Linked DNA regions of Homo sapiens. Changing the gene in region 1 together with any one later gene gives a genetic interaction. Each region holds a gene or a part of one and is shown in the gene's direction. Other genes may lie near its edges.

Region 1 (3,500 bases):
AGAGGGCCTGGAGGATTGTGTGGGGTTAGGAGAGGCTCCTGATGTATATGGGGAACCCCATCAGAATCCAGATCCCTGCCTCTACCTGAGACAGTCCTGAGGCCTCCAAGGAACAGATGGGCCTCTGGTGTCTGACCCATCCAGGACAGGGCCAGAGGTGAGCCCTCTGGCTGGGAGGTCTCTTCACAGCCACCTAGGTCACCAAGCCGAGGGTGAGAGGGTCTCCTCCTGCTGCCTGCACCTGCAGGCCCCCAGCCCCTGGGGCCTCTCCCAGAAGGCCAGGGACAAGGCTCCTCAGTGCAATGATCTCCTTTTCTCCTAGTCCACATTCTTGAGTCTGATGACCTCCACGGCCAGCGAGGCAGCGTCCTATGAGTTCACCACTCTGACGTGTATTCCTGGGGTCATTGAAGTAAGTGGGTGTGCTGGGCCCAGAAGGAGAAGGGGCGCATGCTTGTGTTTGGACTTGTGCCTGTGCCCACCCTGTGTGTGAGTCTGGGTGGATGTCCCCATGTCAGGACAGGCTCTGGACTGAGCTGCTTTGCCCTCCAGCACTGACACTTCTGGGGATCCTAGCTGCTGGACCCCAGAGATGCCTGGTGGGGCCTGGAACTAGGAGGTCAGGCCAGCATGTGGCTACTTTGCCTGGCGCCCCCTGTGCTCTCCTCCCCAACACCACCACAGCTCTGGTCACTAATTGCTGCTTGGCTGGATCCTTCTGCCTCCCCATGAAGCTTCACTGCCTTGGGCTGTGTTTGCTTTGGGCAGCTGAGTGGTATGGCCTTAAGTTCCCATGGTGAAACAATTTATTTGTAAAGTGCTGGTATCATCAGTGATGAGTGTTGTGGGATTGGAAGATCTTGAGCCCTCCCTAGGCGGCTACTCAGCTCATAGGCTGTGGTCTGCACTGGGCTGGGGTGGTGACAAGGCTCAGACTTGGCCACAGGTTGGCATCTGGGTTTCCCTCAGCCCCTGAGCCCCGGGGCCATTCCAGATGTCCCAGATCCAGACAGGACCTTTCCAGTGGAGGCCCAGCCTTGCCTTACCTTTCTTCTCTTCTGCATCCTAGTACAAAGGTGCCAACATCCAGCTCCTGGACCTTCCTGGAATCATTGAAGGCGCAGCCCAAGGTGGGAGGCAGGGCAGGTGTGTGGGAAGCAGACTGGAGCTCTGTTACTGATCGTTGAAATTGGGTGTGGCTGTCATGGAGATCACTCTGGATCCCTGGTCCATTATCCCGCTTTCCAGAAAAGACAGGTTCCAGTTCAAATCCTTGGCACCAAACTAGCCTTGTGATCTTGGGCAAGTGATTGGGTATCTCTAAGCCAAGCCTCAGTTTCCTCAGCTGTAGAATGGGCATAATAATACATAATTTACAGCATAGTTTTGAGGATTAAGTGAGGAAATGTTCAGGAAGCATTTAGCCTGGGCCCTGCCACATGGTAGGGGTGGGCGTAGGACAGCCGTTATTATCCTGTTACTCCTTTTATGATGGTGGTGTCGGATTTTCTTCTGAAATAAGTCTCCGTCAGTAAAACATGTGGATTAAAGAAAAATGCCAAGCTTGTGCTAGTATGTGGCAGAGGCTGTGGTAGGTCTGTAAAGGACAGGAGTCCAGGGCGCCGTGGGCTGGGTAGCAGTCACATGGGTCCACATATGTAACTGCATCCCTCACACCCATCCAGGAAAAGGCCGTGGCCGGCAGGTGATCGCTGTGGCGCGCACGGCTGACGTCATCATCATGATGCTGGATGCCACCAAGGGAGAGGTGCAGAGGTCCGCAGGGTGGGGCATGGGGCAGGCTCACATGTCTGGGGAGGGCCAATGTGTCCCTGAGCTCGTACTAGGCGGCCTGTGGGTGTTTGGCTCTCTCACACGTGAGAGTAGTGGTAGGACTTGTCACAGACTAAACCCAACACCACCCAGCCTATGGCGTCTTCTCCTCAAGGCTTGTGTCCAGCCAGCACAGAGGTATCTTGGGACTGGGGGCCGAGGGGCTTGGCCTGGCCCTGCTTCCTGTTCAGAGGCACAGGTGCCTCATCACTGCCCAGAACCTGCCAGGAGCCCAGCCCCAGGCACAGAAGCATTGTTCATCCACATCCTGGCAGAGGGGTACACCAGGCCTGCCTCCTCGGGACCAGAAGGAGTACCCTCATGTGGTCACCTCGCGGGGGCTCCACCACTTGCCTGTGCATGCCGACCGTAAACCGGGCCAGTCCCCTCTGGGACTGTGGCAGAGTTTAGAAGTTCCCTGCAGCTCTAGGGCATTGGGAAGGAGTGTTCTCTGGGTTGCTGGGGAAGGGGGTGGAGGAGAGAGTCAGTCTCTGGGTGGGCAGTGACATCCTGCGTAACAGGGAAGCTGTGCATCTGGCTCTGTGGACAGCCTGTGAGGGGCTTAAGGGGTACTCTTCCTAGGTCTCTGCTGGAGAAGGAGCTGGAGTCTGTGGGCATCCGCCTCAACAAGCACAAGCCTAACATCTACTTCAAGGTGAGGCACCTCTCTGGCCTTCAGGCCAGGGGTGTGGCAGTTTTGAGACTGCATTGGCTGGCGGCTGAGGCTGTGGGACCATTGCTGTGACCCCTCGGTCAGCAGTTCTCCCCATCCCTTTCTCCTCTTTCAGCCCAAGAAAGGTGGTGGCATCTCCTTTAACTCGACAGTCACGCTGACCCAGTGCTCGGAAAAGCTGGTGCAGCTCATCCTGCACGAATACAGTATCCTTCCCTGAAAGACACGTGAAGGAGGGCAGCCACCACCGTCAGCGCAGCGGGGGGACTGACTAAGACAGGAGGCCTCATGGAGCAGGGTGGCAGCAGGTCACCCCCACTGCCCCTGCTGTCCATTCAAGTAGCCTCTGGGCAAGCTCCAGACTGCCAGGTCTGCAGCCGTGCACTTGACAATGGCTTCCTGGCTCCTCACCAAGTACTGGGCACTGTGGTAGCCAGATGACATCCGGAAGAAAAAGATGTCATGGGAAACAGCCTCTGAGGACGGGGGGTTCCTAGCCTGGAGAAGCCCCAGGGAGAGCTGGGGAATGGGTGGTGCCTCTAAAGTAGTGTCGGGGGCTGGTTGTGTTCTGGGGCCCTGGGGATAGGGCAGGGCCTTGGGCAGAGTTATGCCTGGCATATAGAGAACTCTTAGAGTCAGCTGTGAGCCCCTCGTTGCCAGAGGTGTGCAAGCAGAGGCAGGATGGCCCCCAGTGGAGTCCTGCATGGAAGAAGCTGGGTTCGACCAGCTTTCAGATGCTCCTGGTGCTAAAACCCAGGCTTCCCCTGAGGGGCTTTGGGGATTCTAGCAGGTACGTTTTTCTCCCTGCCTAGCTGTCAAGATTAAAACTCTGTGTTGATTGAAACTTTTATATATTGTGGTCCCTCTGGGGAAGAGAACAGAGGGCTTCCAAAGCATTACAATCTTGCAAAACCTCACAAGCAGATACCGCCACGGTCCCACACGGCCAGCATATTTCCTGCTTGGCTTTTTGGGGCCCTCCGCTGATGGGGGA
Region 2 (3,500 bases), on another chromosome or scaffold:
CTATGATCATACCACTGCACTCCAGCCTGGGTGACAGAGCAAAACCTGTCTCTAAAAAAAGAAAAAGGCAACATGAGGGATACTGTTGTGGTGGAACTGTTCAGTATGTTGTTTTGTGGTGGATACCCAAACCTACACAGGTAATAAAATTGTATAGAAATTAATACACACAAAAATGCAAGTAAAACAGGAAATCTGAATAAGATCAGATAGTATCTTGATTATGATATTATACTATAGTTTTGCATAATGTTACCATTGGGATAAACTGGGCAAAGTGTATAAGGGACCTTTTTGTATTATTTCTTTACAACTGCATATGAGCCTATAATTTTCTCAATAAAAATTTGTATTTGAGGCTGGGTGCAGTGGCTCATGCCTATAATCCCAGCACTTCAGGAGGCTGAGACGGGAAGATCGCTTGAGCCTGGGAGTTCAAGACCAGCCTGGGCAACATAGCGAGACCCCATCTTTCCAAAAAAGAAAAAAAAAATTAGCCAGGTGTGGTCACATGCACCTGTAGTCCCAGCTACTCCAGAGACTGAGGCAGGAGGATCACTTGAGCCCAGGAGTTTCAGGTTGCAGTGAGCTGTGATTGTGCTACTGTGCTCCAGCCTGGGAGACAGACCAAGACCCTGTCTCAAATAATATAATTAATATATTTCTATTTGAAAAAAAAAAAAAAGACCAGAGCAGTATCCTAAATTGGGTCCTAGCCAAACTGTCTTCACTGGCCTAAGGAGACTGGTGGGAAAGAAAACTAGACAGGAAGCTGTGTGCCCACACAGCTCCCCGCTTCCCCGCTCCCTGCCCTAACCCCACTCCAGGTGCTGCTCTCCCTGCGCATTTTGCTACTGATGAAGCCCAGTGTGCTATCCCGAGTCAGCCACCAGGTTGCGTATGGGCTCCATGAACTCCTGAAGACCAATGCAGCCAACATCCACTCAGGTGATGACTGGGCCACACTCTTCACACTGCTGGAGTGCATCGGCTCAGGTGTGAAGCCTCCAGCTGCTCTGCAGGCCACAGCCAGGGCAGATGCACCTGATGCCGGTAAGCCCTTTCCCAGGGAGACTCAGGCTGGCAGATAAACAGTTACACCCCAGGAGTTGGGACAGGAAAACAAAACACAGGTTACTGTGTTCAGCAGATTAAACAGCCCTGGCTCCTGCCATCACTTCCAGAGCTTCCAGTGCCCGCTGGCTAGTACCCATAAGTTAAATAGCATGAGGGCAAATAAGCAATGCAGACGGCTGTGAAGCCAGGCTTCCTACTGTCCTGAGGACTGATTTGTCCTGAGGACTGTTTCCCAGTTTCTGTTTCTGAGCTGTCCCGAGGACTGTTTTCCCAGAATTCTGGGAAAATAGAATTCTGTGAGCAGACTTTATATCACTAAATCGATACATCACTAAATCCCAGAAACTGGGAAAACAGTCCTCAGGACAGTGGAAAGCCTGGCTTCATAGCCTTCTGCATTGCTTATTTGTCCTTGCCACCACTCCCTAGAGTGGTGCTACAGCTGCCACTAGATGCCATCAGGAACCCAGATTAGCCTGCCACCTTATTTGGTCAACAGAGAAACTGTTCCGGCCATCCTTTGGCCCTCTGGTGACAGAAATTAAACTATGCCAGAGAGAGGGGAGGCCAGGCCTCAGCATCTTTTTTCTGAGAGCCTGATTTATCCCTCATCCCAGTGCCCCATCCCCACCCTGACTCTGCCCTTCTCCCTGCCTACCATAGGGGCCCAGTCAGATAGTGAGCTCCCATCCTACCATCAGAATGACGTGAGCCTGGATCGAGGGTACACTTCCGACTCAGAGGTCTACACTGACCATGGCAGGCCGGGCAAGATACACCGATCAGCCACAGATGCCGATGTGGTCAACAGTGGTTGGTTAGTGGTGAGTGACAATATGGGCAGCAATTGAGTCTCTCCTGCTTGACCTGTGGGAAGAATTCCTGGTCCTCTGCAAGGACATTCACACAGGGGCCAAGCCTGTGTCCCCAGCTCCTCTGTGTACTTTACAGGTTGGGAAGGATGACGTTGATAACTCCAAGCCAGGGCCCAGCCGCCCAGGCCCTTCACCCCTGATCAATCAATACAGCCTAACAGTGGGACTGGATTTGGGGCCACACGACACTAAGTCTCTGCTTAAGTGTGTGGAATCGCTGTCCTTCATTGTGCGTGATGCTGCCCACATCACACCTGACAACTTTGAGCTCTGCGTCAAGACTCTCCGGATCTTTGTGGAGGCCAGTCTGAATGGCGGTGGGTCAGCTGATGAGGGGGCAGCTGGGGAGTAGCCATGCAATTATGCAGGGGAGAGGCTGAGAGGGGAGAAAAGGCAGGGTATCTATGCCTATATAGACACAGAAATGTGACCTGAGTCTGGCTCTGCTCAGGATGCAAGTCCCAGGAGAAACGTGGCAAGAGTCACAAATATGACAGCAAAGGGAACCGCTTCAAGAAGAAATCCAAAGAGGGATCAATGCTTCGCCGGCCTCGAACCTCCAGCCAACATGCCTCTCGGGGCGGGCAGAGTGATGATGATGAGGACGAAGGCGTGCCTGCCAGCTACCATACGGTGTCTTTACAGGTCAGTCAGGACGTAAGTATGGCACCCTTTACTTCCTCTCCTCCCCTGCACCTGATACTGGGAGCCTGGGGCGGCCAGGGAAAGCCAGGGCTGAGGGGAAGGGCCCATGTGTGCCAGCCCAGGCCCTGGACCACCATCTTCACAATATTCCCTTACCCAAAACCTTACCTGTAAGTCTTTATTTGCTTAAATTTATTTATTTATTTATTTTTATTTTTATTTATTTATTTATTTATTTATTTTTTGAGATGTAGTCTCTCTGTCACCCAGGCTGGAGTGCAGTGGCGTGATCTCGGCTCACTGCAACCTCCACCTCCCGGGTTCAAGCGATTCTCCTGCCTCAGCCTTCCAAGTAGCTAGGACTACAGGCGCGTGCCACCATGCCTGGCTAATTTTTTGTATTTTTAGTAGAAACGGGGTTTCACCATGTTGGCCAGGATGGCCTTGATCTCCTGACCTCGTGATCCGCCTGCCTCGGCCTCTCAAAGTGCTAGGATTACAGGCATGAGCCACCACACCTGGCCTTTAAATTTATTTTTAAACTAAGATTTACTTATTTTTTGAGTAGGTTCAAAATATACAAAAGGGTAAACTGATAAAACTAAGTTTCCAATCCATTCCTGTCCCCAGCTTCTGAGTTCCCCTCACTAGAGGCAGCCACTGTCACCAGTTTCTTGTCTATCCTTCCAGAGTTACCCTGTGTCTATTCAAAGGCATATAAAATTAATTATGTGAGCAGAGTTTATATCACTAAATTGATGGAGAACCAATTGCCTTAAATAGAATAACCATACAAAAATGACAAAAGTGGCTGGGCTTGGTGGCTCCTGCCTGTAATCCCAGCACTTTGGGAGGCCGAGGCGGGTGGATCATGAGGTCAGGAGATGGAGACCACCCTGGCTA

What was found. A genetic interaction does not mean that the proteins touch.
Region 2: changes in DRG2 (region 1) and GBF1 together harm fitness more than expected from each alone (negative genetic interaction), as found in Homo sapiens cells (one study listed by BioGRID).

What each region holds. Positions count from the first base shown.
Region 1 is NC_000017.11:18,097,948-18,101,447, forward strand, and holds part of DRG2 (developmentally-regulated GTP-binding protein 2), read left to right. Parts: intron 1-322; coding exon 323-412; intron 413-1,069; coding exon 1,070-1,130; intron 1,131-1,685; coding exon 1,686-1,776; intron 1,777-2,415; coding exon 2,416-2,488; intron 2,489-2,621; coding exon 2,622-2,712; intron 2,713-3,500. UniProt on the Homo sapiens protein: Catalyzes the conversion of GTP to GDP through hydrolysis of the gamma-phosphate bond in GTP. When hydroxylated at C-3 of 'Lys-21' by JMJD7, may bind to RNA and play a role in translation.
Region 2 is NC_000010.11:102,374,532-102,378,031, forward strand, and holds part of GBF1 (Golgi-specific brefeldin A-resistance guanine nucleotide exchange factor 1), read left to right. Parts: intron 1-827; coding exon 828-1,053; intron 1,054-1,740; coding exon 1,741-1,901; intron 1,902-2,028; coding exon 2,029-2,269; intron 2,270-2,403; coding exon 2,404-2,609; intron 2,610-3,500. UniProt on the Homo sapiens protein: Guanine-nucleotide exchange factor (GEF) for members of the Arf family of small GTPases involved in trafficking in the early secretory pathway; its GEF activity initiates the coating of nascent vesicles via the localized generation of activated ARFs through replacement of GDP with GTP.